Homo sapiens: one gene and its partner. Changing the gene in region 1 together with any one later gene gives a genetic interaction. Each region holds a gene or a part of one and is shown in the gene's direction. Other genes may lie near its edges. The genes, in order: TIMM9 and MAPKAP1.

Region 1 (3,820 bases):
CTCTTGCTAGTAGGTTTGTCAGTTTTATTAATCTTTTCAAAGAACTAGCTCTTTCTTTTTTCTCTTTTCATTTAAATTGATCTCTGCTCTTTATTTCCTTCATTGGGTTCATTTTGCTCTTCTTTTTTAGGTGCTTGAGGTAGGAGGAGCTTGGATTACTGATTTAAGACCTTCCTTCCTTCCTACCTTCCTTCCTTCCTTTCTTCCTCCCTCCCTCCCTCCCTCCCTTCCCTCCTTCCCTAAGTCCCTCCCTCCCTCCCACGCTCCTTTCCCTCCCTCCCACGCTCCTTTCCCTCTCTCCCTCCCCTTTCTTCCTTCCTTACCTCCACTTCCTTTTTTTTTTTTTTTTTTTTAACAGGGTCTTGCTGTTTTATCTGAGCTGGAATGCAATGGCATGATCATAGCTCACTGCAGCCTTAAACTCCTTGGCTCAGGCAATCCTGCCTCAACCTCCAAGTAGCTGGGGGTATAGGACATGCCACCATGCCCAGCTACTTTTCTTTCTTTTCTCTTTTCTTTTCTTTTCTCTCTTTCTTTTCTTTTTTTGGAGAGAGAAGGTATCACTATGTTGCCCAGTGTATTAGTCCATTTTCACACTGCTGGTAAAGACATACCCTAGACTGGGCAATTTACAAAAGAAAGAGGTTTAATGGACTTACAGTTCCACATGGCTGGGGAGGCCTCACAATCATGGCTGAAGGCAAGGAGGAGCAAGTCACATCTTACATGGATGGCAGAAGGCAAAGAGAGAGAACTTGTGTAGGGGATCTCCTCTTGATAAAACCGTCAGATCTTGGGAGACTTATTCACTATCATGAGAACAGCATGGGAAAGACTTGCCCCCATGATTCAATTACCTCCCACCAGGTCCCTCCCACAACACTTGGGAATTCAAGATGAGATTTGGGTGGGGACATAGCCAAACCATATCACCCAGGCTGGTCTTGAACTCCAGAGCCCAAGGAATTCTCCCACCTCAGCCTCCCAAAGTGCTGAGATTACAGGCATGAGCCACGACACCTGGCCTTTTTCCTTTTCTAATGTATGCATTTAGTACTAAAACTTTTTCTCATGGCACTGATTTAGTTTATCACCATGTAATGATGTCAGCATATTACCAGTTCAAGTGAAGTATAGAAACCTTAATTGTCTACATACATTTAGAACCACAATAGATGGTTTTATAATTTTTGCTTCAACCGACAAACATAATTTAGGAAACTCAAGAGAAGTGTATTGTACCTATTACTGTGTTTTCCTCCTTGATGTTCCAGGACTACTACTTTTATCATTTTCTTCGTTTAGAAACTTGAGCGATTATTTTAGGTAGCTATGCTGGTAACACATTTTCTTAGTTTTCCTACATTTGAGAATGTCTTGATTTCTCCTTTATTTCTCAAGGTTGTTTTCACTAGATACAGGTTTCTGCATTGACAGTTGTTTTCCTTTAGCACTTGAAACATTTTGTGCCACTTCCTTGTGGCCTCCATAGTTTCTAAAGAAAAATCTGCTTTCATCCTAATGGTTTTACCCCTACAGGCAAGATATAGTTTTTCACTTGCTGCTTTCAATGGCTTTTTGTCTTTATTTTTTATTTTATTTATTGTTATTTATTTATTTATTTGCTACAGAGTCTCACTCTGTCACCCAGGCTGGAATGCACTGACATGATCTTGGCTCACTGCAACCTCTGCCTCCTGGGTTCAAGCAATTCTCGTGCCTCAGCCACCTGAGTAGCTGGGATTACAGGTGTGTGCCACCACGGCCAGCTGCTTTTTGTATTTTTTTTTTTTTTTTCAGTAGGGACGGGGTTTCACCATGTTGACCAGGCTGGTCATGAACTCCTGACCTCAATCGACCCACCCGCTTTGGCCTCCCAAAGTGCTAGGATTATAGACGTGAGGCACTGCGCTCAGCCTTGTCTTTAGTTTTCAGATGTTTGACTATTATGTGTCGATGTAGGTTTCATCGGGTTTATGCTGTTTGGGGTTTGTTCAGCTTTTTGAATCTGTAGGTTTATGTCTTTTGCCAAACTTGGGGAGTTTTCAGCCATTATTTCTTCCACTACTTTTACTACCCTACCCTTTTCTTCCTCTCCTTCTTGGACTCTAATGAGACAAAATATTCACTTTTTTATACTTCTACAAGTCCTTTGTACTCTGTTAATGTTTTTCATTCTGTTTTTCTCTGTAATTCAGGTTGAAGAATTCTATTTTCTGGCTTCCAATTCACTGATTCCTCTGTCCCCTCCATTCTCCTATTGATTTTATTCATTGAGTTTATTTTGGTTATTGTATTTTTCACTTCTTAAACTTTCCATTTGGGTCTTGATATCTTCTATTTCTTTGCTGAGACCTTCTGTTTTTTCATTTGTTTCAAGTGTGTTCATAATTGCTCACTGAAGTATTTACAAGGTGCTATTTAAAAATCTTTGTCAGATAATCCTAACACATATTAATCAATGTTGAGCATCTGTTGTCTTTTTTTAATTCAGTTTGAGATCTTCCTAGTTCTTGGTGTGATGAGTGATTTTTTAATATATTGTAGCCTGGACATCTTGCATATCATGTTATGAGGCTCTAGATGTTATTTAATCATTTTATCTGGCTCCTTTTGACAATGCTCCATGAGGGGAAGTGGTGGGAGGTACCACTTCATTACTGCCAGGTGGAAGTAGAAATTCATCTTCCTCACTCTGACACTTGAAGGGAGGGGCAGGGAGTTTCTTGTTACTGCTAGGTGGAGTAGGCATTCTGGCTCCTCACCAGGCTTCCACTGATAACTCCCTGGCTGGGAAGGACTACAGTGCTTTGTTACTCTCCCCATGTGGCCTCCACTGACATTACAGCAGGGTACATGGCCTAATTGTCATGAGGCAGTAATGCAAGTCCTGAATGTCAAGTAGGCCTCCTTAGATACCACCCCAGAGTAGATGGAGATGGGTACCTCATTACTGCCAATTGGGGTGGAAAGCCAGGCTCCCTGTGTGGTTTCCACTGACACTCGCTGGGGAGTGGGGAGGCTTTTCTGTGCATACGAAGGAAATGACATTTTTTTAAATGTCAGTAGTTATTGTGAATTTCTTTCTTTCTTTTTTTTCTTTTTTTTTTTTTTTGAGATGGCGTCTCACTATGCGGTGCAGGCTGGAGTACAGTGCTGCAATCTCGGCTCACTGCAACCTCCGCCCAAGGGGTCAAGCAGTTCTCCTGCCTCAGCCTCCTGAGTAGCTGGGATTACAGGCATAAGCCACCATGCCCGGCTAATTTTTGTATTTTCAGTAGAGATGCGGTTTCACTATGCTGTCCAGGCTTGTCTCCAACTCTTGACCTCAGGTGATCCACCTGCCTCAGCCTCCCAAAGTGCTGGGATTACAAGTGTGAGCCACCGTGCCCAGCCTAGTTATTGTGATTTTATAGGATAAGAAAAAAGGAGGAAAGTATAGGTATGGTTGAGACTGGTGGAATGGAATTACTGTTGATTGTATGTGTTAATCAAAAGCAGAATGTTAATTTTTTTTTGTGATGGTGGCATACACTTTGTCCTAAACTTGAATTTACTACTAGTTTCAACGAACTTCATAAAAATTAGTTTCAACAAAGCTTCATAAAGAATTTATGTTTTCCAGAGATACTTTAATAATTGATAAGCTAATAAAAATTTGCACATCCAGTTTATCATTTTTGTTTTGGTTATCAGAAAACTCTTAACTAAATAAAATGTATAGCATTTATGTTAGTCTACAGTGTACATGATTCATGTTTTCCTTTTACATGCTGTTTAATTTCTGTTTCAAACAGCTTTATTTTATACAAACCTTTTT
Region 2 (3,820 bases), on another chromosome or scaffold:
TTTTACAGATGAGGAAACTGGGGCACAGAGACCTTGAATAACTTCCTTGAGTTTATGCTGCTGGTAGAGCTGTAAGATAGAGGGGATTATCTGCTGAACACTGAGATCGGCACTCTTCATTACTACACCATGTTGCTTGTTCTTTGTGATGTGGATGCGGACCCTCTGGAAAGGCTTCAGAGAGAAACTTGCCCTTGAGCTGTAGCTTCAGTGTGCCAGTCATTGTGAGACAGGAGGGATCACGAGGAATGGAAGTGGCCTTTGCACTAAAGGAGCTCATAGCCTTATCTGTTACTTTAAATGTTTTTCTTTTTTGGTGGGGGAGCTTGTTTTGCTTATTGACTTATACCTGAAGACTTCAGAAACTTTTGCAGTTGAGTGGATTTATATGATTCAGCCTAAGATAATTTGCTGGCAATCTGTTATTCTGATGTATAGGCCTTACTGTTACGGACGCAGTTGTAGATGTCAAATTATTATATGACAAGGACTTCTGTCACGTTACTTGTTTTTTTTTTTTTTTTTGAGACAGTCTTGCTCTATCACCCAGGGTGGAGTGCAGTGGCATGATCTTGGCTGACTGCAACCTCTGCCTCCTGGGTTCAAGAGATTCTCTTGCCTCAGCCTCCCAAGTAGCTGGGACTATAGGCAGGTGCCACCACGCCTGGCCAATTTTTGTGTTTTTAGTAGAAACGGGGTTTTGCTGTGTTGGCCAGGCTGGTCTCAAACTCCTGACCTCAAGTGATCTGCCTGCCTCGGGCTCTCAAAGTGCTGGGATTACAGGCGTGAGCCACCATTCGTGGCCACATTACGTTTTTTCCCTATGGGAGGTGCCCTGACTTGTTTCTGTGAGTTCGAAGTTTTTGTGAAGTTTTTTGACTCAGAAGTCAGCATATTTCAGCTTGTGTTAAATTTAAGAGGCTTAGTGGTTAAATATGTTACTTAAGAGTCACAGAGCTAATGTGTGATAGAGCCACAAAAAACTGGCCAAAAAAGAGTAAACAAATCTTCATTAAATTATTATTATTGTTCTGTTTGAGCATCTTCCTCAGTGGTCTCCAAGTCCGATGCCTGTTATGTACTAGGATGAGTAGGCTGGGCCTTGATGAACTGGAGAGCACGGGCCCAAACTAAAGGGAGCAGTTGCTGCTCAGCTCCACTTGCTTGTTGCCATGTGAGGAAGTGGGCCCAGTGTCCTTGGATCTTTTGACACTTTTTGGAAAAGATGCTGGAAATCTGGATTTTAATTTATTCTTATTTATTTATTTAACTTTTAGAGACAGGGTATCGTCCTATCAGGCTAGAGTGCAGTTTCGTGGTAATAGCTCACTACAGCCTTGAATTCTGGGCTCAAGTGATCCTCCCACCTCTGCCTCCCCAATAGCTAGGACTACAGGCGCATGCCACTATGTGTAGCTAGTTTTTTTTTTTTTTCTTTTTTTGAGACAAAGTCTCGCTCTTGTTGCCCAGGCTGGAGTGCAGTGGCATGACCTTGGCTCACTGCAATGTCCGCCTCCCGGGTTCAAGCGATTCTCTTGCCTCAGCCTCCTGAGTAGCTGGGACTACAGGTGCCCATCACCACGCCCAGCTAATTTTTGTATTTTTAGTAGAGACAGGGTTTTGCCGTGTTGGCCAGGCTGGTCTTGAACTCTTGACCTCAAGTGATCCGCCTGCTTCAGGCTCTCAAAGTGCTGGGATTACAGGGGTGAGCCATTGCATCCGGCCATGTACTAGCTAGTTGTTGCTTTTATTTTTTTTGTGGGAAGGAGTTTCGCTCTTGTTGCCCAGGCTGGAGTGCAATGGCGCGATCTTGACTCACTGCAACCTCCACCTCCTGGGTTCAAGCAATTCTCCTGCCTCAGCCTCCTGAGTAGCTGGGATTACAGGTATGCGCCACCACGCCTGGCTAATTTTGTATTTTTAGTAGAGGCGGGGTTTCTGCATGTTGGTCAGGCTGGTCTCGAACTCCCGACCTCAGGTGATCCACCTGCCTTGGCCTCCCAAAGTGCTGGGACTACAGGCGTGAGCCACTGCGCCCGGCCTAATTTTTAAAAAAATTTTGTAGAGATGGTGTCTATCTATGTTGCCTAGGCTGGTCTTGAACTCCTGCCTTCAAATGATACTCCTGCCATGGCCTCCCAAATTGTTGGGATTACAGGTGTGAGCCACTGCATGTCGTGGATTTTAATGTATTTAGTTTAAAAATTTGCCATTAAAAATTATGTTGATCAAAACATATTTGTGGGCTGAGTGTAATTCTAGGCTGCCTGATTGTGAACTCCAACCTACCTGGCTGCTGAAATTTTGGTACCTGTTGTTCAGAGCAGGAAGTATACAATACAATGTTTTGATTATTGATTAGAAATCTCATGGTAAATTGCCAGTGTGAGGGGGCATTGTAGCTTGCGCTGATAGTTTTGGAGAGTGGCAAGGTCAATGCTTTTATTGTATAATCAAGCTAAAGTATAGATCTGGCTGGTGAGATGACCTTATAACACTTCTATTTTGTGCTCTTAGCACTTTAAATGCTACCAGATTTCTTGTCTCTTGGCCCTCTCCACAATAGTATGAAGTGGTATGGTAAATTTGTTAAATGCTCTTGTATACCTTATTTTCTTTAGTCTTCATAGTCCTATGAGATAGGTAGTATTACAAAGGGGGTAATCATCACCTCTTGAGATGAAGAAATCGGCACCCAGTGAATCACAGTTTAGTGGAAAGAGCAGTTGACTAGAGAGGGTGTTGCATCCTGAATATGCGGATACCACTAACAGCCAGTGAATCACAGTTTAGTAGCAAGTGCAGTTGACTAGAGAGTGATTTGCATCCTGAATATGCGGATACCGCTAACAGCCTTTGGAGTTTGGTCACGTCACTTACAAATCCTCGGATCTTTTTTCCTTTTTGGATAAATAATGAGGAGTAAAATTCAAGTCTTGCTGAAATTCAATTCGTAATATCCTATACTTGAGTATACTTTTACTAATATACTTTTATTACTGATGCAAAGTATACTGAATGTGTAAAACTTCAAAAAAATAACATTTTCCAGTTCCCTGCGGACTCATTTTAAGGTACTGTGTTACAAATAAGTACCATTTCAGCAGAGAAATTGGTAGAAAATTGAAGGAATGGTTTTCTTTTCGGGATGCCAAGCTTTCTGTTTCTAATTGATATGCTTAAAGTCACACAACTGATTACTGGCAGACTCCAGTGGAGATGACTCAAATCTAAAATGCTGCCCCTCCTCTCTTGCTGGCAGGTCAGGAACCACTACTCAGCTCTTCATCTGTTCTTTATTCATTACTTCCTCTGGGAAAGGCCCTTGATGGGCCAGGTGCTCCCCCAGTGCATGCAGTGCCTATTGACTATATGTACTCAAGATTGAAAGGGGGCGTAGAGACACCCAGCACAGTGAGAGAAATATGGTCAGGGAGTTCCCAGCCCAAGAGTTTAATTTATTTTTATTTTAATACCCAGCTTTCACAAGGTGAAAATTGAAGAAATACTGGTCTTGTAGATACTTGTTTTCATTCATACTCTATTGTATAAGGAAATAACAGAATATAAAAATAAAGGGAATAAATCCTGAGCAGTCATTCAAAATTTATTAACTCTAGTTGGCAGCAGTCTAGATATATTGGGGAAATGGATTTAATATAGGCAACACAAAATTTGGACTGAAAGTAGAATACAGTTTTATGTAATTGAAAGTGAGAAAAATGGGAGAAACCACTTAAAAAACAAACCCGAAACTCTAGAAAGAACAAGAAGGTATTAGAATAACTATTGGAATTAAGTTATAGTAATTGCTTGTGAA

What was found.
Region 2: changes in TIMM9 (region 1) and MAPKAP1 together harm fitness more than expected from each alone (negative genetic interaction), as found in Homo sapiens cells (one large-scale study listed by BioGRID).

What each region holds. Positions count from the first base shown.
Region 1 is NC_000014.9:58,414,032-58,417,851, reverse strand, and holds part of TIMM9 (mitochondrial import inner membrane translocase subunit Tim9), read left to right. Parts: intron 1-771; exon of another isoform or gene 772-806; coding exon of another isoform or gene 807-809; intron 810-3,820. UniProt on the Homo sapiens protein: Mitochondrial intermembrane chaperone that participates in the import and insertion of multi-pass transmembrane proteins into the mitochondrial inner membrane.
Region 2 is NC_000009.12:125,700,475-125,704,294, reverse strand, and holds part of MAPKAP1 (target of rapamycin complex 2 subunit MAPKAP1), read left to right. Parts: intron 1-3,820. UniProt on the Homo sapiens protein: Component of the mechanistic target of rapamycin complex 2 (mTORC2), which transduces signals from growth factors to pathways involved in proliferation, cytoskeletal organization, lipogenesis and anabolic output.